7 linked regions of the Homo sapiens genome follow. The protein of the gene in region 1 interacts with the protein of each later gene in a biochemical or structural test. Each region holds a gene or a part of one and is shown in the gene's direction. Other genes may lie near its edges.

Evidence for each region.
Region 2: the proteins of CUL4B (region 1) and PAFAH1B1 form a complex in vitro, tested with the Homo sapiens proteins (one study listed by BioGRID).
Region 3: the proteins of CUL4B (region 1) and KPNB1 form a complex in vitro, tested with the Homo sapiens proteins (one study listed by BioGRID).
Region 4: the proteins of CUL4B (region 1) and DDB2 form a complex in vitro, tested with the Homo sapiens proteins (one study listed by BioGRID).
Region 5: the proteins of CUL4B (region 1) and BRWD1 form a complex in vitro, tested with the Homo sapiens proteins (one study listed by BioGRID).
Region 6: the proteins of CUL4B (region 1) and DCAF4 form a complex in vitro, tested with the Homo sapiens proteins (one study listed by BioGRID).
Region 7: the proteins of CUL4B (region 1) and DCUN1D5 form a complex in vitro, tested with the Homo sapiens proteins (one study listed by BioGRID).

The regions. Positions count from the first base shown.
Region 1 is NC_000023.11:120,536,352-120,540,462, reverse strand, and holds part of CUL4B (cullin-4B), read left to right. Parts: coding exon 1-93; intron 94-1,090; coding exon 1,091-1,195; intron 1,196-1,692; coding exon 1,693-1,803; intron 1,804-2,253; coding exon 2,254-2,339; intron 2,340-3,428; coding exon 3,429-3,536; intron 3,537-4,111.
Region 2 is NC_000017.11:2,596,150-2,600,260, forward strand, and holds part of PAFAH1B1 (platelet-activating factor acetylhydrolase IB subunit beta), read left to right. Parts: intron 1-4,111. UniProt on the Homo sapiens protein: Regulatory subunit (beta subunit) of the cytosolic type I platelet-activating factor (PAF) acetylhydrolase (PAF-AH (I)), an enzyme that catalyzes the hydrolyze of the acetyl group at the sn-2 position of PAF and its analogs and participates in PAF inactivation.
Region 3 is NC_000017.11:47,656,291-47,660,401, forward strand, and holds part of KPNB1 (importin subunit beta-1), read left to right. Parts: intron 1-569; coding exon 570-770; intron 771-2,217; coding exon 2,218-2,370; intron 2,371-4,111.
Region 4 is NC_000011.10:47,217,363-47,221,473, forward strand, and holds part of DDB2 (DNA damage-binding protein 2), read left to right. Parts: intron 1-4,111.
Region 5 is NC_000021.9:39,306,948-39,311,058, reverse strand, and holds part of BRWD1 (bromodomain and WD repeat-containing protein 1), read left to right. Parts: intron 1-4,111. UniProt on the Homo sapiens protein: May be a transcriptional activator. May be involved in chromatin remodeling. Plays a role in the regulation of cell morphology and cytoskeletal organization. Required in the control of cell shape.
Region 6 is NC_000014.9:72,939,764-72,943,874, forward strand, and holds part of DCAF4 (DDB1- and CUL4-associated factor 4), read left to right. Parts: intron 1-38; coding exon 39-139; intron 140-456; coding exon 457-614; intron 615-1,981; coding exon 1,982-2,061; intron 2,062-3,230; coding exon 3,231-3,333; intron 3,334-4,111. UniProt on the Homo sapiens protein: May function as a substrate receptor for CUL4-DDB1 E3 ubiquitin-protein ligase complex.
Region 7 is NC_000011.10:103,061,161-103,065,271, reverse strand, and holds part of DCUN1D5 (DCN1-like protein 5), read left to right. Parts: intron 1-894; coding exon 895-997; intron 998-2,857; coding exon 2,858-2,913; 3' UTR 2,914-4,111. UniProt on the Homo sapiens protein: Contributes to the neddylation of all cullins by transferring NEDD8 from N-terminally acetylated NEDD8-conjugating E2s enzyme to different cullin C-terminal domain-RBX complexes which is necessary for the activation of cullin-RING E3 ubiquitin ligases (CRLs).

The DNA.
Region 1 (4,111 bases):
GCTTTCTGAAGAATGAGAAATTTATCAATGCCATGAAAGAAGCATTTGAAACGTTCATTAACAAAAGACCAAATAAACCAGCTGAACTTATAGGTATGTTTTCCAGTCCTTTTTCCAGTTGTTTAATGATGTTCTTTGAGTCATAAAATCTCAATCTGAAATTTTTACCAGGTTGTAGTATTACTAATTCCTGATTTGTTTGAGGTTGCTTAGCTGGTATATCAAGTTTGAAGAGTGTTTCTAAAAACCTGGATGTAAGTACTGAAAGCCCACATGTCAAACATAATGTGCTTTCTTTCAAAGACAGTACGTTGGACACTATTTACCTTTATTGATAATAAGCTAATCTGTTTTCCTAGCCTAATGATTTAAAAATGAGGCAGGGTGTTATTTCAAGCTACAAAAAAGGGCAGCATGAAATTACAGTTGTCAGTGAAAAAGAAAAAAGTCCAGGGCAAAAATAAACCTAATAATCTGGGCCCATTTAGCATAAGGATGTGATATACACTACAGTGCTTCTCAGGTTTTTCCACCCAAGTACCCTTAGTGTCAGAGGAGGAGGTAACCTGAGAAGGTCTAGGGTCCTCTGCCAAAAGGATGAAATTTTGTTGCAACCTATCTACTATGTATCCGTAAACATGTAGCAAATTTTACCTTCTACTCTACGATGTATCTGGTTTATTTTAATAGAAAAGTAATGTTTAAGATTGCTTACTATTCCTATAAAATGGATACTCCAGAAGATTCCTCATGTCTTTTCGTGGCTTGGATTACATGATGCCCTCACAGGGCTACATGAGACCTCCCCCACAGGATATCCGTATCCTATTTTCATAAACATCAGTATAGTGGGAAGTACATTTGATCTGGAGTCAGAACACTTGGGTTTGTGTTCAGGCCCTGATGTTATTAGCTCTATGGCACTGAACAAGTCAGTTGATCTTCCTGACTTTGGAGACTTTTAAAAATGCATATAAATTTCTGAAGTATTGAAAAACTCAGTGTATCATACTCCTCTTTGGGTATATATAGTGCCCAGTACCTCGTGTATTCCCCGGTTATTAAACAACAAACTTTTCCCCCATTTTAGCTAAGTATGTAGATTCAAAACTTCGTGCAGGCAACAAAGAAGCTACAGATGAAGAACTTGAGAAAATGTTGGATAAAATTATGATCATATTTAGATTTATCTATGGTAAGTATTTACTAATGTTTTAATATTTTTCTTTTAAAATAGCACTCAACAGAGAAGCTAGCAAGTATATTCAAACTGGAGGGAATATTTATTTGGAAATTACAGATTTAAAATTGTGTTTAATTCATTGGGGGGATACGTGAGGAATGTTACCTGATTGTCCTATGCTTTGGCTCTTCTAGTATTAAGTGCCTTGATTTTTGCTACTTGGCTTAATCTCTTAAATATTGGCACCAAAGCTACCAGTCCACAAAAGCTTTTCTGAAGAAAAGTTAATGCAATCAAGACAGTTACATGCAAAAAAGTTTTACAATAAAGACTTCGAAATGTCTGGCACAAAAATGGATCTCTACTGTTTCTTGCATTTAACAAACTTAAATAAAATGTGTAAAGTAAAATAACTTGGAATAATGGTGTGCTTTATTAAAGCACTTTAAAGCAGTTTTGTCAGTACTTTTTATTGGAATATTATAAATTTTGCATTTCTTTTTACATAGGCAAGGATGTTTTTGAGGCCTTCTATAAGAAAGATTTAGCCAAGCGCCTGTTAGTCGGAAAGAGTGCATCTGTAGATGCTGAAAAATCAATGCTGTCCAAACTTAAACATGGTAGGTTTCTCATTCTTTCTGTTCCTTTTCTTTGATTCCTGAAGGAGAATGTTAGCTTTTTACCCTTTCAATCGATTTCCTCTTTTGTCACTCATGTCTATGTATATATGATGAAAACATAAATTGAGCAAGCTCCTGAGGTTTCCAACTTATTGTACATAATATCCAGAGTTGTTTTTTTTAAGATAAAGCATTGTTCTTGGTTTTATTATTTGTATAAAAATTTCCCATTTATTTTATACCTAAATAGTAGATAAGGTTACTACAGGATTAAAGAGTTTGACTCTGAATTAATGGGGCATACACTTTGGGGTAAGGATTTCTTTTTATTCTTATGAAAGTTACAGATCATACTTCATACTAAAGTTTTGTATTTCGTGTTTCCCACTTTTAAACCTCTTTTGTTTTTACCACTTTAAAATATTATACATGTACAAACATCTTTAATAGAATGCGGAGCTGCTTTCACCAGCAAACTTGAAGGAATGTTTAAAGACATGGAACTTTCTAAAGACATCATGATTCAGTTCAAACAGGTAAAAGTGAGTTAAACTCTTAATTCCTCAAACTTAGTTGTATTTAGTTATCTGCTTGCTATGATTTGTACTAAAGAGGATAAATAGAAACGTGTTTGTTGTAATTCATGGCAACTGAGGTGATATTCACAGTAGAAAAAAAAATTGGTGAAATATAAGTATATTTGACCTACTTTAGGATTTATTTTTGACAAACACCCAGAATAACACAAAAATAAAAATAAAATGTATTGAACTGAAGTCAGTACAAGAAGAGCTATAGTGGGAAAAGGGCTTTCCTCAGCATCTTATCGTTTGGTAATTTGCATGTTCAGAGCTTGCAATGGGGAGAGAGGAGAAGTGATAATGCAGCTGTATAAAAGCCTTTGGGGACATTGGGGATAGAAAGCTAGATCCACAGTTTTGAAGATGTAGGTAGAAAGTAGTTTTGAAATGTTTAAGATCATAGGTGATAATGATGGCAAATTAGATTTTCCTCTTTTGGGTTTTAGTAGTGACTTCTTTACCCCACAGTGTTGCTAAGGTGGGAAGTGGAAGTGAAAGAATTAAGAAAAAATCAGGGTCAGTAAGATTATGGATTCTATAGTAGCTACAGAATAGGGCTTATCTGCTTTGCCCTTTTCCCCTCTTTTTCCTTCCCTACTCCAGGTCACTCCCTGCAGACAGGCAGTGGAGCAAGTGAAAAACTGGAGACTTGGGCTGGCTGGGGGGTGAGGAATGGGGGTTGCTGCAAGGTGTTTAAGCCACATAGGGGTATTCAAAGGTGGGGACTGCAGGTGGTATTGGGGAAAAGAATGGAGAAGAGATCCTATAACGGCCCAGCTGTATGTGAGAAATTATTTAAGTTGATAACGCCTGTAATGAGGTCATGTGATCCTTGTATGCCTTTGTATCAAAATGTTAACCTCTGTACTTGCCTAGTGCATTTTGTGTAGGTTTCATTTAAAGTCTTCTTAATAGTTGCCTTTTATTTTAAGGATGGTCAGTGTTTGCATGTAATTTCATAACAGGGAACTTCTTAAATAGGTTATTATGATATGAAATGTATGCAGTTTTAAGATCTCAGTGTGTGTTTTGATCTTCTTATAGTATATGCAGAATCAGAATGTTCCGGGAAATATTGAGTTAACTGTGAATATCCTGACAATGGGCTATTGGCCGACATATGTGCCTATGGAAGTTCATTTACCACCAGAGGTAAGAGTTACTGTTTAGAACTGAGTTATAGGCATAGAAATCATAGCATTTCCATTTTGCTTGTCATTTAAAAATAGATACTTAGAAAAAAATAGAGACCCAGGGTCTCGCTGTATTGCTCAGGCTGGTCTTGAACTCTTGGGCTCAAGTGATCCCCCCCGCCTCAGCCTTCCGAAGTGCTGGGATTACAGGTGTAAGTCACCAGGCTTGGCATGGATACTTTTAAAAGTGTATGTCAGTAAGCGCACCAACACCAAATACCAACTGCTTTAATGTTTTACTTTTGTACTTAGAAGTCCAGTTAAGCACATAGCTAATAATGCCAAATTTCTGGGTTCAGGGTCAATTTCCCTGGCTCTTCTTCCATCTTCCCAGGTTATACCCCTCACTCTACCTAGCTATTAAGAATTCTTGCACATATTTCACCCATAGGTGGGATTGCTAAATGATGGGTCCTTGATTAAATCTATCCTGACTCCTGGTAAACTGTCTAGTCCAGGACTGAAGCCCATAAAAGGGATTAAGGCTAGACAGATAGATATTGAGAATCCTCCATGGAGATGATTATGAAGGCC
Region 2 (4,111 bases), on another chromosome or scaffold:
TATTGTCTCCTTATTTGTCCCTGTGTGTGTGTGTGTATATATTAATATATAAAGATACACACACACATATATCTACACTCTTGTTAATGTTTTTTATTGTTCTCGCCATATAAGTATAAATTAATGTCAGAAATATTTGGCAAGAAATAGGGGGTACAGGAATACTGCAATAATCTAAGAAAAATACTACAATTGTTTTACTTAAAACAGTAAATCTATTTGAGATTTTAAAATAGTGAACATAAAAGGTGGGGAAAAAAGGATAAGATAATTTGCATGAAAGCCCCTTCAGATCTTTTCTCTTGTGTTGCTCTTTGAAAGGGACCTTTTTGTGAGATACTGCCATAAGCTAGGGTAGGTCATTTTAATGCCCTGTATCAAGCATTCACATGAGTAGACATCTTCAAAAGAATTTCACATATAGGTGGTAAATGTGACTTTGATTAGCCTTATGAATGCTTGTCAGTGTATGATGTATTTTTACACTTTTGTTCTTTTTAATATGATTAGAAAGTAGAAGGGTTATTATGGTGAGGAAATGAGTAAGGTTGGGAATGATAATTCACTGTATTATGTGTCTGACATATCCCTATTCCTACTGTTTGTAGAATATCAAAGCACACTAAGGTCCAGGTGCAGTGGTTCACGCCTGTAATCTCAGCACTTTGGGAGGCCGAGGCAGGTGGATCACCTGAGGTCAGGAGTTCGAGACCAGACTGACCAATATGGTGAAACCCCGTCTCTACTAAAAATACAAAAAAATTAGCCATGTCTTGTGCCATGCGCCTGTAATCCCAGCTGCTGGGGAGGCTGAGACAGGAGAATAGATTGAACCCGGGAGGCGGAGGTTGCAGTGAGCCGAGATCGTGCCACTGTACTCCAGCCTGGGCGACAGAGCAAGACTCTGTCAAAAACAAACAAACAAAACCCCACACACTGAGTGGTGATTTTTCAGTAGATTGTTGTTAATCAGGAGCTTAAGATAATTTGACTTAAGGAGCTTTAGTTCCAAGTGTATGTAGTGTTTCTTGATACATGTTGGAGAATCTTAGGCTTAATTTGGAGATTAATTTTTAAAATTATTCATAGTTCTGTATAGAACTCTTAATGAGATTGGAAGGAATTTTTTAGTACAATTTTTTGTTACCTGTTTTTCCAGATAAAATATCTCTAGTGTAAAGAGATTTTGAGATGTTTCTGGGAAGGAAAAGTCAGAATCATAATTTATGCTTTTCTAGCTAGAACATCCGTGTCTTTTTTTTTTTTTTTTTTTTTTTTTGAGGGGAAGTCTTGCTCTGTTGCCCAGGCTAGAGTGCAGTGGGGTGATCTCAGCTCACTGCAACCTCTGCCTTCTGGGTTCAAGCGATTCTCCTGTCTCAGCCTCTTGAGTAGTTGGGATTACAGGTGCCTGCCACTACACCTGGCTAATTTTTGTATTTTTAGTAGAGATGGAGTTTCACCATGTTGGTCAGGTTGGTCTGGAACTCCTGACCTCGTGATCCGCCCGCCTCTGCCTCTCAAAGTTCTGGAATTACAGATGTGAGCCACCACACCCTTCCCTATTTTCTATTTTTTAAAAATAATATAAATGTTTCTCTCTCAGTTGTATACTAAGTAACAGAGAGACAGAAAGTGTGTGTGTGTGTGTGTCTGTCTGTCTGTCTGCGTATATGAGACTTTATGGCTTATATTTTAAGTATCCAGCAAAAATAAGACCCTCTTGTTTACATGTGGTTCATGTTATTCATAATTTGTCATCTTTGTGAATAAGTCATGGATGCTATAGAAATTGTCAACATTAAGATGAAGATGTCTGGCCAGACATGGTGGCTCACACTTACACTCCCAGAACTTTGGGAGGCCGAGGCGGGTGGATCACCTGAGGTCAGGAGTTCAAGACCAGCATGGCCAACATGGTGAAACCCCGTCTCTACTAAAAATACAAAAAAATTAGCCGGGCATGGTGGCGCACACCTGTAGTTCCAGCTACTGGGGAGACTAAGGCAGGAGAATTGCTTGAACCCGGGAGGTGGAGGTTGCAATGAGCCGAGATCGCACCATTACGCTCCAGCCTGGGCAACAAGAGCGAAACTCCATCTCAAAAAATAAATAAATAAATAAAAATAAGATGAAGATGTCTTAAAAAACCCAAAGCAAAATATTAGGGCAGAGTGAATTTTCAATATCTTCCCATTGAGTTCTAAAGCAGTGAGTCATGCGCTCTTTTGCCAAAGGGACTTGAGGCTCGGTTGGTTTTAAACCAAGCTGGCCATTTCTGCTTGTGGTCCTAAAATATTTTTTACTTGCCTCTAAGTCCCTGTTAACGAAAATATTTCATTATGACAGGTAACTTATTTTTATGTGCTTTGGAAAGAGGGAAATAGTTAAGTTTTGAAGTGGAAATTCTTTGCCACTGTTTTTATTATGTCATCTACAGTACAACTATTACTTTTTTTTTTTTTTTACTTAGAAAGTTGTTCTATTTAAAATAAAACTAGTGGTATACAATACGAGTTCTGAAAAAAAGACAGACCTACCGTTCTCCAGAAGATGCTTAGCTGTAAATTGAATCCTCGTCATTGAAGGTCAAACATTTTGAGAAATCTGTATTTCATGAAGAAAGATGCTGTATTATGTAAGCGTAATAGTTAACTGCAGTGAAGGCTTTTTGGATTGTTCTTTGTTGCTGGTTTGGCATGGCACTTTTTGGCTAGTCATTGAAATGGAACCTTAGTTTAACTTCTGTTACATATGTAATTTTTAACCTTGGCATGGCAGTCATAGAATTTAATTGATATTTATGAAATGCTTTATATTCATTGGTGGCAGGCATCATAAGCACTTATTATTTTATTTCTTGTTTTCTTTTTAAAAGATGGTGGCTTCTTGTTGAAACTTACCTAGATAGGACTAATCTGCATTTGTCAAGGATACTTCTGGAATGGTACTCTCTATTGTCTTTTAACATTGTCATAAACGTTTCTCTAGAACTTTCTAAATATTGAGCTTGGTACTGATTTTCATTTGTTCTTCTGCCAGCTACTTTTTGAGGTAGATTGGTATTTTTATGGATGAGAGAACTGAAATCCAGAGAATTTCTTTTCCTGTCGAATGTTAGGTTAGTGACTAGAATAAGGTAAATATTGCAGTCACAGAACTCTTGGGTACTGCTTTGTAAAATCACACATTCCTTCTTTCTATAACGATTGGACTCCTTAATCTTTGTTAAATGGTGAAAGTTGGTGGTATTTATTGCCTGCATCATTTAAATTGGCATTTATTAACATATGGTCTTGTATTGTTGACTGCTTTGCATGCATAAGGCTTTTGGCATTTGAGTAGCTTCTCCCAAAAAATGCCTAATACTGCTTTACAGATAGTATTAATAAGTGAATAAGTACTAGTTGCATTTGACTGAATGGTTATGTGAAAGGAAATGTGCTATCCTAAAGATCTTTGTAATAGTTGACTCCGGTGATCTCAAGAGAATTAAGGTGATGGAGGAAAGAGTGGCTGCATTTCGTATACAGAGATTTTATATTCTCTGAGGGAACAGGGTTACACTTTGACAGAATTCTTAAGTATAAAAAGTGAATTAACTCAACTGGACAAATTACCTATACATTTTGATTATCTGCTTTTGGGGCTCTTATGTTGACAAGAATTGACAGTTAACTGAGGCCATTAAAAAATTTTCTGAGACTTTTTACAAAAGTAAAATTAAGAATCTTTGAACATTTTAATAAATTTAATTTTTGAAAGCATTGTAGAAAGTTATATGTTTATTAAAATTTTACAGTGCAGATTAATCCATTTTTAACCTTTTTTTTTTTTTTTTTTTTTTTTTGAGGTAAGAGTCTCACTCCATCACCCAGGCTGGAGTGCAGTGTCTCGATCTCAGCTCACTGCAACCTCCACCTCCTGGGTTCAAACGATTCTTCTGCCTCAGTCTCCCGAGTAGCTGGGACCACAGGCACATACCACCACAGACAGCTAATTTTTGTATTTTTACTAAAGAACTCCTGGCCTCAAGTGATCCACCCGAGTTGGCCTCCCAAAGTGCTGGGATTACAGGTGTGAGCCACCACACCCAGCCCAATCCATTTTTAAT
Region 3 (4,111 bases), on another chromosome or scaffold:
GGGCACAGTGGCTCACACCTGTAATCCTAGCACTTTGGGAGGCCAGGAATTTGAGACCAGCCTGGGCAACATAGGGAGACCCCCATCTCTACTAAAAACCCAAAAAAGTTAGCTGGGTGTGATGGCATGTGCCTGTAGTCTAAGCTACTCAGGGAGGCCTGGGAGGTCAAGGCTGCAGTATCGTTGTGCCATTGCACTATCGTTTTGCTACTACACTCCACCCTGGACAACTGACTGAGGCCTTGTATTTTCCTTTTTTTTTTTTTGAGCCTGGGCAATATGGTGATGCCCTGTCTCAACAAAAGATAGCTGGGCATGTCAGCATATCCACCCCTGTAGTTCAGTTACTCAGGAGCCTGAGGCGGGAGGATAGATTGCACCGTAGAGATTGAGGCTACAGTGAGCTGTGATCGTGCCACTGCACTCCAGTCCGGGCAACATAGTGAGACCCTGTCTTAAGAAAGAAAGAAAAAAAAGAATTCAGAGACACTAATATAAGTATGGTGGTGGGCAAAATGTGGTCAAATAGTGTTAGAAATTTGTATCTTTTGTCTTTTTTTTTGGTGCAGGTTTTGCAGACATTGGGTACAGAAACTTACCGGCCTAGTTCTGCCTCACAGTGTGTGGCTGGTATTGCTTGTGCAGAGATCCCAGTAAACCAGTGGCCAGAACTCATTCCTCAGCTGGTGGCCAATGTCACAAACCCCAACAGCACAGAGCACATGAAGGAGTCGACATTGGAAGCCATCGGTTATATTTGCCAAGATATAGTAAGTGCTTGCCTAATGTATCTGGTTTATATACCTCTGATTGCCTCTAGCTGTGACATCAATGATATTAGTACTACCTTATTGAATCACGAAGAAAGCCAAGCTAAATTGCACAGTTTTGAAAGTGAGACTGATTTATTTCCCTTAGGCCTGTGTCTTCACATTGCTAATCATGCCCTAAAGTAAAGAAACTTGAGGATCGCAAACTGAAAACAGAAGTCTATGTTTGAAGAGTCTTAGATTCTAGACTTACAAAATGAGGATATTCTCATTTGGATTATCCCTGACCCAGTCTTTTTTCTTAAGATCCCGAATGTACCATGAATGTTGTGGCGCATTTTCATTTACAACATTACGGAAAGTTTTGCCAACATTTGATGTAGTTGGTTTAGCCACTGGAGACACAGTATTTTAGATGTAGCCCCCCCAGCACTGTTGTTCCTGATGAGGTTACCACTCTTGGTGTGTATTTTAATATATAGACTTTATGAAGCAAAGGAGCCCACAGCACTTGACCCAGACTTAGACTCCCTAGATGTGCCTAGGTGTCGATCCTTGGCCTTGGCCCTTAAATGCCCTGAAGCTTTACTTTAGAGTACAGATGGCCTGGAAAATACGAACAGACTGCCATCTCCATTTGCACAGAAGTGGGGAGGAAAGCGAATATTACCTCATACCCAGAGTCATTATGCTAAGAAGTCAAAGATGAAGTTGATGAGTTTGACTTGGTTTTGTTCAGTTCTGGATTGCCAGTACCATGAGACATTTTGCAGGTGGTTTGCAGTGTTATTCCCAAATGGAAACGGGTGGGGAAAGATCACCAATTCATGATACTTTCTTGAGTGAACTTTACAGTTAAAAGGACTGCCAATTAAGCCAGGCACAGTGGCTTACACCTGTAGTCCCAGCTGCTTGGGAAGCTGAGGTGGGAGGATCACTTGAACCCAGGAATTTGAGGGTTCAGTGCATTGTGGTAGTGCCTGTGAATAGCCACTGCACTTTAGTCTGGGCAATACAGACCCTGTCTCTTAAGAACAGAAGAAGGACTGCTTCTGTCGTGAAGCTCCTTATGGCAGTCTTTTGGAGGGGATTGATTCCAGCACCCTCCTCAGGTACCAAAATCCTCAGATGTTCAAGTCTGTTACATAAAATGGTGTAGTATTTGCATATAACCTATGCACATCCTCCCATATACTTTAAATCATCTCTAGAATACTTACAATACCTAATTCAATGTAAATGCTATATTAATAGTTGGTATACTGTATTAAGGGAATGATGACAAGAAAAAAAGGTGTACATGCACCTTTTGGTGCAGTACAGATGCAACCATCCATTTTTTTTCCTCTAAATATTTTCAATCCATAGTTGTTTGAATCCACAGATGTGGAACCCATGGCTGCAGAGGGCTGACTGTATATTCATTGCACTTCTCTGCTTGTTACAGGACCCAGAGCAGCTACAAGATAAATCCAATGAGATTCTGACTGCCATAATCCAGGGGATGAGGAAAGAAGAGCCTAGTAATAATGTGAAGCTAGCTGCTACGAATGCACTCCTGAACTCATTGGAGTTCACCAAAGCAAACTTTGATAAAGAGGTAAGTTTTTTGACAATAAGGTATAGATTCAGACAGTAAGGGATGAAAGAGTTGAATGAAAGTTTTTTGTTTTGTTTTCTTAAGTTTATGGTTTAGAAAGTACCACCTACTTAAAAGTATTTGTTTCCAGTTTAGTCGAGTTCGTATTGTGTGAGATATCCCCATGGAGTGTTTGCCGTTTCTCATCATGCTTTTGGAAATAAAGTGTTTCTAAGCTTAGGTTTTTCCTTTTGCAGTCCAAAGTGTGGAATGTTGTTGGGTTTTTTTAAATTATAGGGCATGGTGGTGCATACTGGTACTCCAGCTACTTCAGAGGCTAAGGCGGGAGGATTGCTTGAGTCCAGTTATTCAAGGCCAGCCTGGGCAACAAAGTCAGATATCGTCCCTTAAAAAAAAGAAAGGAATAGGCTGGGCGATGTGGCTTAAGCCTGTAATCCCAGCACTTTGGGAGGCTGAGGCGGGTGGATCATCAGGTCAGGAGTTTGAGACCAGCCTGACGAACATGGTGAAACCCCATCTCTACTAAAAATACAAAAAAATTAGCCGGGTGTGGTGGCGTGCGCCTGTAATCCCAGCTACTCAGGAGGCTGAGGCAGGAGAATCACTTGAACCTGGGAGGCAGAGGTTGCAGTGAGCCGAGATTGCAGCACTGTATTCCAGCCTGGGCGACAGAGCAAGACTGTCTCAAAAAAAATAAAAAATAAAAAAAATAAAAGAAAGAAATTATGGTATGTACTATATATGTTGGTTTACTTTGGTTTCTTTTAAGATTGTGTGAATCTTTTGCCTTGTACTAAAGATTTTGTGGAGGCCGGGTGCTGGGGCTCACATCCAGTAATCCCAACACTTTGGGCCACCAAGGCAAGAGGATCACTTGAAGCCAGGAGTTTGAGACTAGCCTGTGCAACGTAACAAAACCCTGTCTCTAAAAAAATTTCTGTGGAGAAGAACAACTGAGTTGTTAACCAGTTTTGTGAGCTCTTGTGTTTACAGGGCTTATAATGGAAAAAAAATAATGAAAAATGAAATAAATAAAAATTATAGCAATTGGTCTGTTTCATACCACCTTAGGAAGGTGTTTTTAAGAAACAGGATATATAGCCAGGTGCTTTGGCACATGCCTGTAATCCCAGCTACTTGGGAAGCTGAGGTGGGAGGATCACTTGAGCCTGGGAGTTCAAGGCTCAAGATTTCACCACTGTACTTCAGCCTGGGCAACAGTGCAAGACTCTGTCTCCAAAAAAAAAAAATATATATATATGTATATGTATGTGTATGTATAATATATATGTAAACATTTTGGCTGAAAATGCAATGAATAACATAAAATTTACCATCTTAAATCATTTTTAAATGTATAGTTAGTTAAGTAGATTCACATTGCTGTGGAAACAATCTCCAGAACTTTTTCATCTTGCAAAACTGAAACTGTACATACTGAACAACAACTCCTCATTTCCCCCTTTCTCAGCCACTGGTAACGACCATTTTACTTTCAGTTTCTATGTATTTTACTACTCTAACGAAATACCTTACGTAAGTGGAATCATATTTGTCTTTTTGCGACTGGTTTGTTTTACTTAGTATGATGTCCTCGAGATTCATCTAAGGGGTAGCATTTGTCAAAATTGGCTTTTTAAGGGTGATTAATATTCCATTATATGTATATGCCACATTTTGTTTATCTAGTCTTCCATCCATGGCCATTTGGTTTGCATCCACCTTTTGGCTATTGTGGGTA
Region 4 (4,111 bases), on another chromosome or scaffold:
TGAAACTCCATCTCAAAATAATAATAATAATAATAATAAAAGAAAATAAAAATAAGGAGTGTTTGTTGAAGGCATGAAAGGAATATTGATGTCATCCAGTAATCATCAGGAAGAGGACTGGGATCAAAATTAACTGTGGGCATTTTCAAATACGTAAATGATGATGATATATATTTTTCTAATGCCTGTCCTTAAAATACTAGAAGATATAGACTATTGATCACCCATAGAATTGAAGCCCCTTCTGGGCTGGGCGCAGTGGCTCAGGCCTGTAATCCTAGCACTTTGGGAGGCCAAGGTGGGCTGACCACGAGGTCAAGAGATGGAGACCATCCTGGCCAACATGGTGAAACCCCGTCTCTACTAAAGATACAAAAAATTAGCTGGATGTGGTGGTGTGCGCCTGTAGTCCCAGCTACTTGGGACACTGAGGCAGGAGAATCGCTTGAACCCGGGAGGCGAAGGTTGCAGTGAGCCGAAATCACGCCACTGCACTCCAGCCTGGGCAACAGAGCGAGACTCCATCTCAAAAAAAAAGAATTGAAGCCCCTTCTTACCACATTGACCTCATCTTACGCCATTGTCTTTTCTCACTTCTATGCTGTAGCCACACCAGCTGTTTCTATTCCTGAAACCGGGTCTCTGTAATTGCTGTTCCCTTTGACTGGAGTGCTTTTCCCCCATGGTCTTCTCATGGCTGGCGTCTTCTCTGCAGGTCTTTGCTGATTCTACCTCTTCAAAGAGGCTTTCGCTGGTTGTCCTTACTCATAACGTAGATCCCACTCCTCCACCGTCATTCCCTGTATCATTACCCTGCTTCATGTTTCCCCCAAGTGTTGATGGGTGTCTGAGATCTGATGCTTATTTGTATGTTTGCCCACTGATGGCAGGGACCTTTCCTTTCTGGTTCACCATCCTATTCCCAGTGCCTGGAACAAAGTTTGGCCTAGAGTAGCTGCTTTATATTTGTTGAATGAGTGAGGGGCTTGAAGTGTAATTGAGCAGATGGGATGTATACATACGAGGTAATTAACAATACAGATGCCAAGTGCTACAGAATGTGAAAGAAGGAAGAACCCCTTGTGAATTGGAGTCAATAAAGAAGACTCCATGGATGAGCGAGGAGGAGCAGTATTAGATAAATGGAGAGAAAAGAAGGAAAGACATAGTGTGACTGGGTGAGGTTTGGCACAGAGTTCTTGGGAATGGTCTTTGTTGTGCTAGAGTTTATCATCCATTGCTGAGGGGTGAGTGTGTCGTCCCCTCTAGGACCTTTAGCCAGCCCAGCTGGTGGCTGACATTGGAGGGCTGTGCTGTGAAAAGTGACACTGGGTTTAGAGCAGGAGTCACAAACTTATAGGGCTCCAGAAGCCAGAGTGGAAAAAAAAAAAAAAAGAATGTATGGTGGTAGGGTCAGGGGTAAACTAGAGATGACTGTTGTGCAAAAATGTAGGTCTTTTGATATCAGATGTGATTTTTCTCAAACAAAGACACAAATCCTCATTTTTTAAATGTCATATATCTTGAGTTTTAAAAAAAATTGTAAAATACACGTAACATAAAATGTATCACCTTAACCATTTAAAAGTGTTTTTTTTTTGAGGCGGACTCTCGCTCTGTCACCCAGGCTGGAGTGCAGTGGCGCAATCTTGGCTCACTGCAAGCTCCGCCTCCCGGATTCATGCCATTCTCCTGCCTCAGCCTCCCCAGCAGCTGGGACTGCAGGTGCATGCTGCCACGCCTGGCTAATTTTTGTATTTTTAGTAGAGATGGGGTTTCACCGTGTTAGCCACGATGGTCTCTATCTCCTGACCTTGTGATCTGCCTGCCTCGGCCTCCCAAAGTGCTGGGATTACAGGCGTGAGCCACCGCCCCCAGCCAACTTTTTAAAAAATAATGATAAAATACATATAACATGAAATTTACTTTCGTAACCATTTTAAAGTGCACAGTTCAATGGCGTTGGGTAAATTGTGTAAGCAGTCTCCAGAACTTCATTATTTTTTTTTATTTTTATTTTTTGAGTCTCATTCTGTCACCCAGGCTGGAGTGCAGTGACACAACCATAGCTCACTGCAGCCTCCACCTTCCTGACTCAAGGAATCCTCCGGCTTCAGCCTCCCATGTATCAGGGACTACAGGTACGCACCACCATGCCTGGCTAATTTTTAGAGATGTGGTCTCTCTATATTGCCCAGGCTGGTCTCAAACTACTGGCCTCAAGCAATCCTTCTGTCTTGTCTTCCCAAATTGCTCGGGATTACAGGGCTGAGCCACTGTGCTGGGCCTCTAGAACGTCTTAATATTGGCACTGAATGAAACTAAACACACGTCTCAGCCGAATTCTGCTTCAGTCCACTATTTTTCTAGCTCTGGTTTAAAGGTAGACATGAGGGGGAACCCAGGAGGAGGTCTCTTTATTTATTTATTTGTTTATTTTTTTGAGATGGAGTCTCACTCCGCCGCCCAGGCTGGAGTGCAGTGGCGCAATCTCGGCTCACTGCAAGCTCCGCCTCCCAGGTTCACGCGATTCTCCTGCCTCAGCCTCCGAAGTAGCTGGGACTACTGGTGCCCGCCACCACACCCGGCTACTTTTTTTATATTTTTTAGTGGAGATGGGGTTTCACCGTGTTAGCCATGATGGTCTCGATCTCCTGACCTCGTGATCCGCCCGCCTCGACCTCCCAAAGTGCTGGGATTACAGGCGTGAGCCACTGCACCCAGCCAGCAGGAGGTCTCTTAAGTGGAGGGATTTGGAGAGCAGACCACCAGAAAAGGCCAGGTTAGACAGGTGTGGGAGACTGGAATTCAAAGTGTGAGATGGGTGTTCAAGGAACAAGTGCCAGAAGCCCCCAGAAAGGCAGTCAGAGGAGTGCCGCGGACAGAGTGGGGTAGGTTTCCTGCCCAGCTAAAGAGGCAGGTGACCGCTAATAAGGCAGCTTGAAGTTGAAGTCAGAACCCAGAGCTCAGACAGGAAGAAATTTGTTTTCTTGTTTTCTCCAGGAGTCTAGGACATGGGAATAGAGGAATTTAGCTTATGCCTGGAGATGGGAAGAAGCAGTGTAGGGTATTCTAGGGGAAGAGCTTCCTGACTAACAGGATAATGACAAGTGCTTTGAACTTGTGCCAGACTGAGATTGCTTTTTTTCTTTGTTGCATCACCTTATGACATGCGTGTAACCTTCTTTACAGTGTAAACTTTCTTTACACTGTAATGAAGATTGGTCTAGGCATTGAATTTTGTGGCTTGCATTTGCAGGGAGCTAGGTTGGAGCAGAGGAAGGGTATGGCAGTCTGGAAGAGACCTGTCTGGTTTTACTCCCAGATGCTGACAGCAGAATGCTGATTTGAGACCAGTTACTGGAGGAGCAACAGTGCCTCATTTTGTCACTTCTTTAGTCATCTGACCTTGGCTGTGACCTTTACATTCTTCAGGCCCTTGGCAAGGGAACATGTATTACAGTTTCACAATGAAGATAGCTTAATTTTATTCCTATTATAAAAACAATGTATGGGGCCAGGCGCAGTGGCCCACGCCTGTAATCCCAGCACTTTGGGAGGCCGAGGCGGGTGGATCACCTGAGGTCAGGAGTTCCGAGACCAGCCTGACCAACACATAGTGAAACCCTGTCTCTACTAAAAATACAAAAATTAGCCGGGAGTAGTGGTGCACGTCTGTAGTTCCAGCTACTCAGGAATCTGAGGCAGGAGAATCACTTGAACCTGGGAGGTGGAGGTTGCAGTGAGCTGAGATGGTGCCACTGCACTCCAGCCTGGGCGACACAGTGAGACTCCATCTCTCAAAAAACAAAACAGTGTATTCTTATCATAAAATACAGAGAAAAGTGTAAAAAATAAATTAAATATGATCCAAAATCCCCATTTTCAGCATCCCTCTGTGCATGTGTACACTATTTTTTTTTTTTTCCAAGTCTGAGTCTTGCTCTGTCGCTCAGGCTGGAGTGCAGTGGTGCGATCTCACCTCACTGCAACCTCCGCCTCCTGGGTTCAAGCTATTCTCCTTCCTCAGCCTCCCGAGTAGCTGGGATTACAGGCATGCACCACCACACCAGCTAATTTTTGTTTTGTTTTGTTTTTTTAAGACAGAGTT
Region 5 (4,111 bases), on another chromosome or scaffold:
TATGGCATCTATCATTGCCTCCCTGATTTGGTCTGTCTGGTGGGTGTCCTTTCTTTTTTTACCTTCCTCTCTGCCCTCCAGTCCCCCAGGACTGAGTGATGATGAGCCTCATGTGTAGAGAATTATTCTTTTGTTAATGGTATATGTATCGTTTCTAAACTTTCAAAGTCTTTTAAAAATACCTTATTAAGAAGTATTCCAGGCCAGCTGCGGTGCTAACACCTGTAATCCCAGCACTTTGGCAGGACGCTTGAGGCCAGGAGTTCTAGACCTGCCTAAAGTGAGGTTGAGGATGTAGTGAGCCCTGATCAAGCCACTGTGCTCCAGCCTAGGTGAGCGAGACCCTGTCTCGAAACGCAACAACAAAAAAGAAGTATTTCAGATGTACACAAATGAGAATAATGTAATGCACCGCTGTATATCATCAAATTTGAATAATAATAATTTTTTTTTTTGAGACAGTCTGTTTTGAGGAGCAGCCTCGGCTCACTGCAACCTCTGCCTCCTGGGTTCAAGTGATCCTCCTGCCTCAGCCTCCTCAGTAGCTGGGATTACAGGCACCTGGCTAATTTTTGTATTTTTAGTAGAGATGGGGTTTCACCCTGTTGGCCAGGCTGGTCTCGAACTCCTGACTTCAGGTGATCTGCCTGCCTCTGTGTCCCAAAGTGCTGGGATTACAGGCACCTGGCTAATTTTTATATTTTTAGTGGAGAAGGGGTTTCACCATGTTGGCCAGGCTGGTCTTGAACTCCTAACTTCAGGTGATCTGCCCGCCTCTGTGTCCCAAAGTGCTGGGATTACAGGCGTGAGCCACTGCGCCTGGCCAACAAATTTGAATTTTGAAAGTTACTAACTTGCTATATTTACTTTGGTTTCTGTTTGAGGTATACATATGTTTTAAGAAACTATCAATGGACATCTTCAAACAAAAATAATAGAATAAATGACCCACCCACTAGGTGCCCATTTTCCAACTTCAGTGATTATCAGAGAATGTTGCATATTGTCTGCTCCCTTGTTTTTAAGCAAATTCCAGAAAGCCATTCATTTCACTGGTTAATGTGTTGGAATGTTTTAAGGCAGATTCCAGACACTACATTTCATCTCTAAGTTTGTCAGAGTTCATCTCTAAAAAATAAGGACTGCTTATTATATCATCAAGTGCCAATATCACAGAGTCCATATCCAGATTTTCTTTTTGTTCCCTGGGTGTCTTTTTTTTTTTTTTTTTTTTGAGACGGAGTCTCGCTCTGTCGCCCAGGCTGGAGTGCAGCGGTGCGATCTCGGCTCACTGCAAGCTCCGCCTCCCGGATTCACGCCATTCTCCAGCCTCAGCCTCCCGAGTAGCTGGGACTACAGGCGTCCGCCACCACGCCCGGCTAATTTTTCTGTATTTTTAGTAGAGGCGGGGTTTCACTGTGTTAGCCAGGATGGTCTCGATCTCCTGACCTCATGATCCGCCTGCCTCTGCCTCCCAAAGTGCTGGGATTACAGGCGTGAGCCACCGCGCCCGGCCTCCCTGGGTGTCTTTTTACAATTAGTTTGATTTGGTCTTGAGAAAGGTCCATACATGCATTGACTGATTGATTCTCTCCCCGCCCCACCCTGGGTCTCACTCTATTACCCAGGCTGGGGTGCAGTGGTGTGATCACAGCTCACTGAAGCCTCCATTTCCCAGGCTCAAGCAATCTTCCCACCTCAGCCCTCCACCTCCTGAGTAGCTGGGACCACAGGCATGTGCCACCACACCTGGCTAAGTTTTTTTTTTTTCCCCTAGAGAAAAAGACTCGCTATGTTGTCCAGGCTGGTCTCAAATGCTCCTCCCAAAGTTGGAATTACAGGTGTGAGCCACCACACCTTCCCTGATTTTTGTTTTGTTTTTTTTTGAGATGGAGTCTCACTCTGTCGCCAGGCTGGAGTGCAGTGGTGTGATCTCGGCTCACTGCAACCTCTGCCTCCCGGGTTCAAGCGATTTGCCTGCTTCAGCCTCCCAAGTAGCTGGGACTACAGGCGCACACCACTATGCCCAGCTAATTTTCGTAGTTTTAGTAGAGACGGCTGTTCACCATGTGGGCCAGGATGGTCTCCATCTCTTGACCTTGTGACCTGCCCGCCTCGGCCTCCCAAAGTGCTGGGATTATAGGTGTGACTCACCGCATCCTGCCCCTTCCCTGATTATCTTAAATCTCTTTTTATCTTGAATAGTCTTGTTTCTATGCCATTGATTTACTGGAGACCAAATCATTTATCCTGTAGAATGTTTTACATTCTGTATTTGTCTTATTGTTCCTTATGATGGTAACTTGTTCCTTTTTCTTAGTGGTTTTCATCTTCAGATGAGAATCATCTGGGGAGCTTTATAAAATCTGGTTGCCCAGAGTATGCCCCAAACCAGTTAAATCAGAATCTTTGTGGTGGGACTGGACATCAGTATTTTAAAAAGCTTTTTAGATGATTCTAGTATTAGTGTTTGTAAAGCCACAATTTATCTTAAACTTGTGACCATGCTGTTATTCCAACCTGTATTTGGGGGCAAGAGTATTTTTGGTACTTTTGCTTTTTTTTTTTTTTTTTTTTGAGACAAGGTGTCATTCTGTTGCCCAGGCTGGAGTGCAGTGGTATAATCTTGGCTGACTGCAACCTCTGCCTCACAGGTTCATGCAGTTCTCCTGCCTCAGCCTCCTGAGTAGCTGGGATTACAGACATGTACCACTATGCCTGGCTACTTTTTGTGTTTTTAGTAGAGACGGGGTTTCACCATGTTGGCCCGGCTAGTCTCGAACTCCTGACCTTCAGTGATCCACCTGCATTGGCCTCCCAAAGTGCTGGGATTACAGGCATGAGTCACCTTGCCAGGCCTACTTTTGCTTCTTATAAGAATTGAAGCCAAGTGTGGTGGCTAAGGCTACACAGAGACTTGAGAGTCTGAGGTGGGAGGATCACTTGGTGCCAGGGGTTTGAGAGCAGCCTGGGCAACATAAGCAACACCTCATCTGTAGAAAAAAAGTTTACAAAACCTTGGTTTACAGGTGTGAGCCTCCGTGTCCAGCTCCCAAGTTTCTAGTCTCTACCTGCACTGCTATATTGCTAGACTGTAGCTCATCAATCACACTACCATGATCATTAAGTGTCCCCAAGTTACAAATGAAATACCTATAGAATGATAGATCTCTATAGTCAAGGACAATACAGAATCTATAGAGGAAAGAAATTAGCTACCCTCAGGATGGAAGGGTCTTTTAGAGTTCCACTGTGAAAATTAAATGATAATGGGATTAGTTTCAAGACTTGTGGGAAATACAAAATTGTAAAAGAGGTTTTTGTTTTAAAGGGGTTTTACTATTAAAAAAGGCTCAGCCTAAGACTTAAAGTATCTGGCAGTGCACCCAAGTTCCAAGTCATAGCCTATAATCTTCTATCATAACCTGATTCCTTAATCCTGTAGAGTACTTAAAATGGTAATACCAGTCTCCTCCCAGTTTGGGTAATTAAGTCATAACCCAGGAAGGTTAACAAGCGAAGATGAAGAAAAAGGAAAGTACAAATGTATTCACACAAGTATATATACATATAATATGTGCAATATATACATACAAACATATATACATAAAATATATACATATAATACATTGATATTCATACAAGTACATATTCTGATGTAGTAACAAGTTTTGTAATTACTGAGTTACATTTATTTGTTTGATAGAGTAAAAAAAATTACAAAATAAATTTGAAATCTATTTACAAGTTTAGTCTTAGAAAATTCATGGTTAGGTTTGTCTAAGTTAACCCTGCTGAGGTGATTAAAATAACTGTACGCTTCTAAGTGTAGTGAAAAATGCCCAAGGAAATTTGATTAAATGTGTAAGTGGTATAAAATATTTTATGATTAAATTTTCAATTATAACCAGGCTCAGTGGCTCACACCTGTCATCCCAGCACTTTAGGAGGCTGAGGCAGGTGGATCACCTGAGGTCAGGAGTTCAAGACCAGCCTGGCCAACAGGGTGAAACCCCGTCTCTACTAAAAATACAAAACTTAGCCGGGCGTGGTGGCAGGTGCCTGTAATCCCAGCTACTTGGGAGGCTGAGGCAGGAGAATCACTTGAACC
Region 6 (4,111 bases), on another chromosome or scaffold:
GTCCTGGGCTGCAAGTTAACACAGCTGTGTGTCAACAGGTCTGACTCCCGGGCAGCACAGCCCGCTCACGATTCCGGCCACGGTGATGACGAGTCTCCGTCAACCTCGTCTGGCACAGCTGGGACCTCCTCTGTGCCAGGTAAGGCCACTTGCGGGGTGGGAATCCTGGCCCTTGCACACAGGGAAGGCTGAGACCCGTTCCTGGCTTGGAAGGAATTCCAGGAGCAAATTGAAACACTCAGGGAAGGAGCTGGGTGCGTCAGGAATGGTGGTCATGAGGCAAACCGCCTCCCCCAGGACTGAGCACAGTCCAGGATGTTGCCTGACAAGGCAGCTCATCCCCGCCCTCAGAAAAGACAGGCAGCCACGAGGTGGGGGGACAGGCCACTGGGCGCCCAACTCAGGTGGTCAGTTCACAGTGGTTGAAATTGGTGCATTTAATTTTTTTGTCTAAAGAGCTACCTGGGTTTTACTTTGACCCTGAAAAGAAACGCTACTTCCGCTTGCTCCCTGGACATAACAACTGCAACCCCCTGACGAAAGAGAGCATCCGGCAGAAGGAGATGGAGAGCAAGAGACTGCGGCTGCTCCAGGAAGAAGACAGACGGAAAAAGGTGGGCTCCTCACCCCTTCGCCCCCTGTCCTCTCCGCTCCTGCCAGCACCTGTCCATCCACTGTTGAAAAGGGTGCCAATTAGATGCCCCTGCGACACTTAGCAGAGGCACTTCAGGGGGTGTGGCCCTAGCTTTTCCCTGACAGGAAGAAGACAAGAATAAGAACAGCCAAGAGCCCCCTTCTTCCATCCCCGTTTTCTTGTTCGATAAGTTGTTTTTTTTTTTTTTTTTGAGGCGGAATCTCACTCTGTTGCCCAGGCTGGAGTACAGTGGCATGATCTCAGCTCAGTGCAACCTCCACCTCCCAGATTCAAGCAATTCTCCTGCCTCAGCCTCCTGAGTAGCTGGGACTACAGGCACGTGCCACCATGCCCAGCTAATTTTTTTATTTTTAGTAGAGACAGGGTTTCACCATGTTGGCCAGGTTGGTCTTGAACTCCTGACTTCAAGTGATCTGCCTGCCTCAGCCTCCCAAAGTGCTGGGATTACAGGCGTGAGCCACCACACCCAGCCTTCTTCAGCAGTTCTAACATTTTGTCATTCCTGAAGGAATCTTGGGAGGCAGTGTGATATAATTTTAGTAACTGTTTTTTGGGGTTTTTTTGAGACAGGGTCCCACTCTGTTGCCCAGGCTGGAGTGCAGTGGCGCCATCTCGGCTCACTGCAACCTCTGCCTCCCAGGTTCAAGTGATCCTCCTGCCTCAGCCTCCCAAGTAGCTGGGATTACAGGAACCTGCCACCATGCCCAGCTAATTTTTGTATTTTTTTTATAGAGATGGAGTTTCACCATGTTGGCCAGGCTGGTCTCGAACTCCTGGCCTCAAGTAATCCGCCCACCTTGGCCTCCCAAAGTGTGGGATTAGAGGTGTGAGCCACCATGCCCATCCCAGCTGTCTATTTTAAATAGAAGACCAGGATGCATGGTTTGGAATACAGGCCATCTTGTCTGTTTGCAATACAGACCAACAGGTCTAGACGCTAACATATTTTGTTGTCAAGGTAGGCAATGGAATGTAAAGTTCCAGCCCTGGGTCACCACGGGTGGAATGGAGAGTGGTGCAGACCTGTTTGCAGTCCCATTGCTGCACTCACGCACCTGGTGGCTTCGTCCCCCCGGGTGTATGTGGATGGGGAGCGTGGGCAGAGTTGACGAGCAGACTTTCCCACTCACACTTTCTTCTGCTGGGCCTTTCCTCTTGCCGAGGAAGGGAGACTTGGAAAGGACACCGTCAGATTTTTATGCATATAATTTCTGCCAATTTAGTGCCTGTTTCCTTCATTACATCCTATGGAACTAAAAACATTCTCCATCATCCCCTAACAAATAAATCTTCATTGAATTGTTCTCTTTTTTGTAATAAATATAGATTGCCAGGATGGGATTTAATGCATCTTCCATGCTACGAAAAAGCCAGCTGGGTTTTCTCAACGTCACCAATTACTGCCAGTAAGACAATGCCTCTTTGTTATGTTTTCTTCATGAATGTTCTTTTCCTGTTTCTTATTTTCATGGTATAAGAATCCAGTCTGGATAGACCATGTGGCTACCCCGTGAAGCACCTGCACAGTTGAGGGGCTCCAGTTCACACCCTGCCTTCTGCTGCTTAAACCCACCCTGAGAAAGCTGTTCTCTCTAGAGCGAAGGCGGGGGACTCTTGCAGGAGGATAGGGAGAGAGGATGGGGACGTAGGCAGAGATGTCTATTCTCTGTTACTCGTAAGTCATTCTAGTAGAAGCTCCTACAACTTCATTCCCATGACATTTCTGCATCCTTCTTTCCCTTCTAATGAGTTGTCACCAACAATGGGGCATTAAGTGGATGTGTGTGTACTAAACCTTATCAAAGTACTTATGATGGCTGATACAATTCTAACTAAAACCCTGTGAAATAGGCCGATACTTTCCCCCATTTCCTGAAGAAGAGACTGAGGCTCAGAGTGGAGTGATTTGCTCAAGGTAAAGCTAGAAGTGGGGAACTGTCTGACTCCAACACCTGAGCGCCCAGCGCTGCGTCTCCTGCCCCCACTGTACATGCTCAAGTGAAGAACCTGCATTTGAGGCAGCTTCCTGGGGCACAGCCCTCGGACCTTGGAGCAGGGCCCCTTCAGGGAAGGCCAGAAACACCGTAGGTATCAGGCAGGGCAGGCCCCTCCTGTTTTCCTCCTTCTGAGACAGAAAGTTAAAAATCTAGTTAGATCTGTTCCTCACCCTGCGAAACAAGAGGCGGCCGTATCCTGGGGCTCTTCCCGGCAGCCGTATCCTGGGGCTCTTCCCAGCAGCGGAGTGCCCTCCAGACCATTGTTTCATCTCCCGCACTTTCGTCATCTCAGGGGAAGGAGCTGTACTGAATGATGCAGACACAACTCCCTCTAACTCCCACTCTTTGACTCTGCAAATGGGCCACCCACTTCTTCATTTTCATCTTCCTGAGCGTTCTGTGGGGAAACTCAAATTCGGATAATCTGGGATCTTGCTCAGCTCCATTGCTGAGAAGTACTGTGGAGCAGGCTGACGAGGAGAGATGGGCGTCAGCGGGGCAGGGAAGGCCAGAGACCCCCGAATCTTCTTCATGGATGTCAGCTTCAGCATCCATGCCCCCACCCTCTGTTTCTGCAGTTTAGCCCACGAGCTGCGTCTCAGCTGCATGGAGAGGAAAAAGGTCCAGATTCGAAGCATGGATCCCTCCGCCTTGGCAAGCGACCGATTTAACCTCATACTGGTGAGTGGGAGGGGGACACCTGCCTAGGGTGTGGCTGCCACCCTCTGGACACTTTGTGGCTTAGCGTTGCCAGTCATCAAACCTGGCTCTGGAGAAGCCAACTGCAATGAAAGTAGGTGGCATCTTCTTGGTTGTACGATTTTAACCTGCCTGCTGGCTACCCGCTGGGAGACGCTGAGCTGGCAGGCAGGCTGTGGGGCGACCATCATCACCCCCCACTTCAGCTCCGTCGTTTAACGTCAGAGTCTGGACCCAGCCACACCTTGACTACTGAACTTTACACAATAACTTCTCCTTGGCTGTGTTGTATATGCAATTAAAAAGGCTCACAGTGGACCTGGGGACATCTGCTTCTTCCTGAACTGGGGCAGGACTTGGTGGCTAAACCTGCAGCCCAGTGTGCCTTTGGTCACTAGAGGGTAGGACTCCTTGCTTGCCGCCCCTGGCTTCAGTGGCACCTCCCATCAACACACCTCCATTACATCATTTGCAGGGGGTGAAAGGCCTTCTCTGGTTTGGGTTGGACCCAAGCTGGAAGCCAAGGTCAGCCGCTTAAACCCAGGGGCCAGGGAAAGGTTGGCAGAGAGCTAGAAGGACCACTGCAAACAAAGGTCCCTGACCTTTCGATGGACCACGTAAGAGCAGGGCCTGCCCGGCAAGCCCTATCCTTCCTGGAGGCTGAGGGAAAGCCAGGGAGAGTGAGAGGAGGATACAGAGGCAGGAGCATCTGGACTCGGTCATCTGCTGGTGGGACTGGAGGCCGATGCTAGAGATTGAC
Region 7 (4,111 bases), on another chromosome or scaffold:
GCTGAGGCACGAGAATTGCTTGAACCAGGGAGGTGGAGGTTGCAGTAAGCTGAGATTGCACCACTACACTCCAGCCTGGGTGACAGAACGAGACTCTGTCTCAGAAAAAAAAAAAAAGAGACAATGATATGAAAAGGTCTTACATGAATGAGTTTTACGCATGATTCAATCTGTAAGTCCTATAAATTATTTTTGATGGATGGTATCTATTTTCTTCCTATTAGTAGTTTTGGGCAAAAATAAATTTAACTGAATGTAAAAATATTCAGCTCTATGGGGAGCTGAGAAGAACTAAATATTTTCAGACACTTGTTATGTGCAGGTTGTTTGGCATATATTTTTAAAAATCTTTATAATACCATTTTGAATTAAATTCTATCCCCATTTAACAAATGAGGAGGTGGTTTCTATTCTTAAGTAACTTTCCCAAAATCACTCAATTAAGTGGCAAGGGTGGGATTTAAATCGAAGCCTATACTCTTTCACTTGTTTCCAAAGATGCCAAACTCAAAATGTGGCTAAACAGTAAATCTTGAGCAAAGAAATGATTTACTAGGAAGCAGCACAATAGAACATACTGGATGTAGGAAATGTTATATATCTTGATCTCATTGGTGGTAACACAAGTATATACATATGAAAAAGTTAGTTTTATCCTTACTGTTAGTACTCAGTGCTCTTATTATTCCTCAAAAATGAAAAAAAAAGTAAAAAATAGATTATGTTAATATGTAAATGCCCATGAGGAATCTCTTAGAAACACAAATAATTAAAAAAATAGTAAATGTTTTAGAAAAAACCAAATCACAAAAACAGTTAAAACTTAGTTTACTAAATTGAGTAAATGATGTTTGTTTAAATATTTAAATACAAATATTTAAATCATTTTTGCAGCAATCAAAGTATCGTGTTATGAACAAAGATCAATGGTACAATGTATTAGAATTCAGCAGAACAGTCCATGCTGATCTTAGTAACTATGATGAAGATGGTGCTTGTAAGTATAACATAACATGTTCCTTTGAAAACAAAATTTCCAAAAATATTAAATGAGAGTATGCATTTGTGTAGTATTAGCATAGAGGTTTTAAACTTTGTAATAGTAACTTATTTAATTGTGTGAGGGATTGTGGGAGAAGTAGAGAGAGAGCTTAGATTCAGCAGTATTATATAAAATCTATGCTGGTAAATGAAATGTTTTCAGTTCCTCGGCAACCAAACATTTTAGCTAAATTTAAATTATAATTTTTGCATCCAGAAGCTAAAATTCAGCTTTGTTTCTGTCTTTCCTGGCATTTGCCTATGGAAGAAAAGTACAGTCATGATTTTAAAAATATAACAGCAAAACAATCAGCCACAATAGAAAAAGCTTTAACATTATTGTAATATTATGCTACCCATTAACAATATGGCAAATAATGTCAGTATAACTTCTCTCTGAAAACTATAAATTGATTGTGAGCTAACTGATAGTGAAATAGTTATAATTTTTCAATCCGTCAAGTTAAAATATCTGTCCATACTCCTCCATGGAAAGGCTAGAATGCCATAAAACAGGATTTTGAAATAATGATAAATTAATTAGATAAACCAAGTTAATTCTGTAGAACTATAAATTTTTTTCAGTTCCAACCACCATTTTGGTTGGTTGCATGTGTTTTCAGTGTTCAGAAGGGTTACAAGGAAAGGTACATTCCTATAAACTTAAACTGAAATTATACACTTTTTTCTGTGACACTGAAAAAATAAAATAACAGAAGAAGGGATAACTTTATTTCTTCCCACATATATTTTGTCCTCTCTCTACAAGATGGTATAAAATTTAGTATTATTTTAAAGAAATAATACCTAGCAGCAGTAACCTGGCAGCCCAAAGGCTGTATATGGCCCGTAGATGTGTATATTTATGTATTTTGTATCAGCATTTAAAACTAGGAGATTTTGTATTAAAATACAACATTTAGATTTGTTGGAAAAATTTAAAAAGTCTGACAAAACTGTACCTTTATAGTACTCCTTTATAGGAGTCAGAGGCTGGAGTCAAGTGTTAACTGTGTTGGACTTGCTTTTCAGTTTGACAGTTCATGGTATGCCAACACCTAGGCTGTTTTTCAGTTGCCATTTATTATCATATGTGCTCTGCTGCTTTTCTTACGATAGAGAAACATGTCTGTCAAAAGCAATGGAAAAAGACCACCAGAGGATTATGTGTTTTAAGAAGAATAAAGCAAGCATATTTCTTTGTGGCGGTGATTTTTTTCCTACATTTAAACAAAATAAACACTGAGCTCATTTAAACTGCCTACTTGGCTCTGTCAGCAAATGAGTTTGGACCTCCCCTACGTTATAAAAATATATGTTTTAGAATAGTACTTAGCTCATTAATTAGATATTCATTAGGCACTTGCTTTGTGTTCAGCTTTGTACTACATCCTGTTATTGGAATAAAGTAAGTCTCTATTATGGCTGATCCCTCTCAACAAGCTTGTACACTTCTTGGGGAGGCAACATAGAAATATTACCTTCAACACTTTTCAGATTGTTTCATAATTAAATGCCAGAATGCTATGGACACTTAGAAAAAGGGAGAGATTTGTATTGACTCAGTTACTGGAGGGTTCATGAAACACCTTGAGAAGGAAGTTGCTATAGATACCATTGTTCCTTGTGTCTTTAAGGGCAAAAAAGAAAAGGCTAATAAGAAAGCACCATTAAATGGAATAAGGTGTCTAGAAGCAGAACACCCAAAGAAAGGAAGGGTCATTCCTCTGTCATTGCAGAGCTCGTGGGGAGTTTGTTTTATAATTGGAGAGATGAGTTCACTGAATTCTGACAAAAATGGTTTCTTTTTTTCTAGGGCCTGTTCTTCTTGATGAATTTGTTGAGTGGCAAAAAGTCCGTCAGACATCATAGCAAGAACTATGTGAAGAAAATGCAAACCTTTCAATTCCCACGTGTATACAAGCTAATGTGATGAGGGGGAAAAAAATCCAACGGGTGCATTTTCATTCATATGAAAGACTTCTCATAGTACTTTTTTTTCCTTTTTTTAAAGGAGGTTTTTCTTGTTACATGTGATGGGCATTGAGCCACACCTCTTCTTAGACTGAATATTGAAGTTTTTGTTTTGAGTTATGTTTATAACATTTATTTCAGAACAATAAAGATTCAGATTTGTGACAAAGGCCTTAAAGTGAAGATGTCCCTTGAGTGTCAGAGTGGTATTTATTTTTGTAAATTTGAATTTTTTGATTTTTGAGGTTCCAATTCACCGTGAATTTACAGAATTTTCAAGATTTTAAACAGTCTTAATATTTGGCAACATAGTCTGCTGATGGTATGGCTCATTATAGTCATCTCTGCACAATTTGGAAGACTGTTGGCCTTGACTTCTGGGATAATGATTTGCTGATGCAGCTAATAAACATTTCTAGGTATTGGAAAAATGCTCCTACTTTTAGCTCTGGGTTTCTATAAAAGCTGCCAAGGTCTTATGCAGATGTCTTATCTCAGAGAGCTTAGAATTGGAAAGATTATGTCCAGTTGTTTTGTTTTCTAAAAAAGTTGTATTATTAAGTTGTATCATCATTATTATTGTTGATAATAGCATATTTATATTTTTAACTGTCATTATATAGGGAATTTTGTTTAAAGCACTTTTTTTTTTTTTTTTTGCCTTAAGAGAACGTTAGCTGTGATATGGATTTAATTAAGATACACATAGGAAAAGAAGACAATAGAATAAGGAATCATGAGAGAACTCTGGGTATAATTAATTGTGCACAACTCAATAGAGCCATTTACGTTGGTAGTATTGCAGCTTGCTAATTATCACAATTTTCTGCCTGTTGGTAATCAAGTGTCTTGAGGAAAGGGAAGGCTTTCCTAATTCATGTAAAAGGCACTTTTGTACTAGCAGCAGGCCTGTTTGTACATTCCTTTTCAAACCATCCAGTATCCCAGTGATATGAAAACTTTGTTCATATTCATAGCCCAGTCACAACTTCAGAAACATTTCTAGTGTCATTGTTTGAGTAGAGAGAAGTAAAGAGGTTATTTTTCCATAATAAGGGAGTGTTTCTATTAGGATTTAAGGTAAAGGTTGATTTTT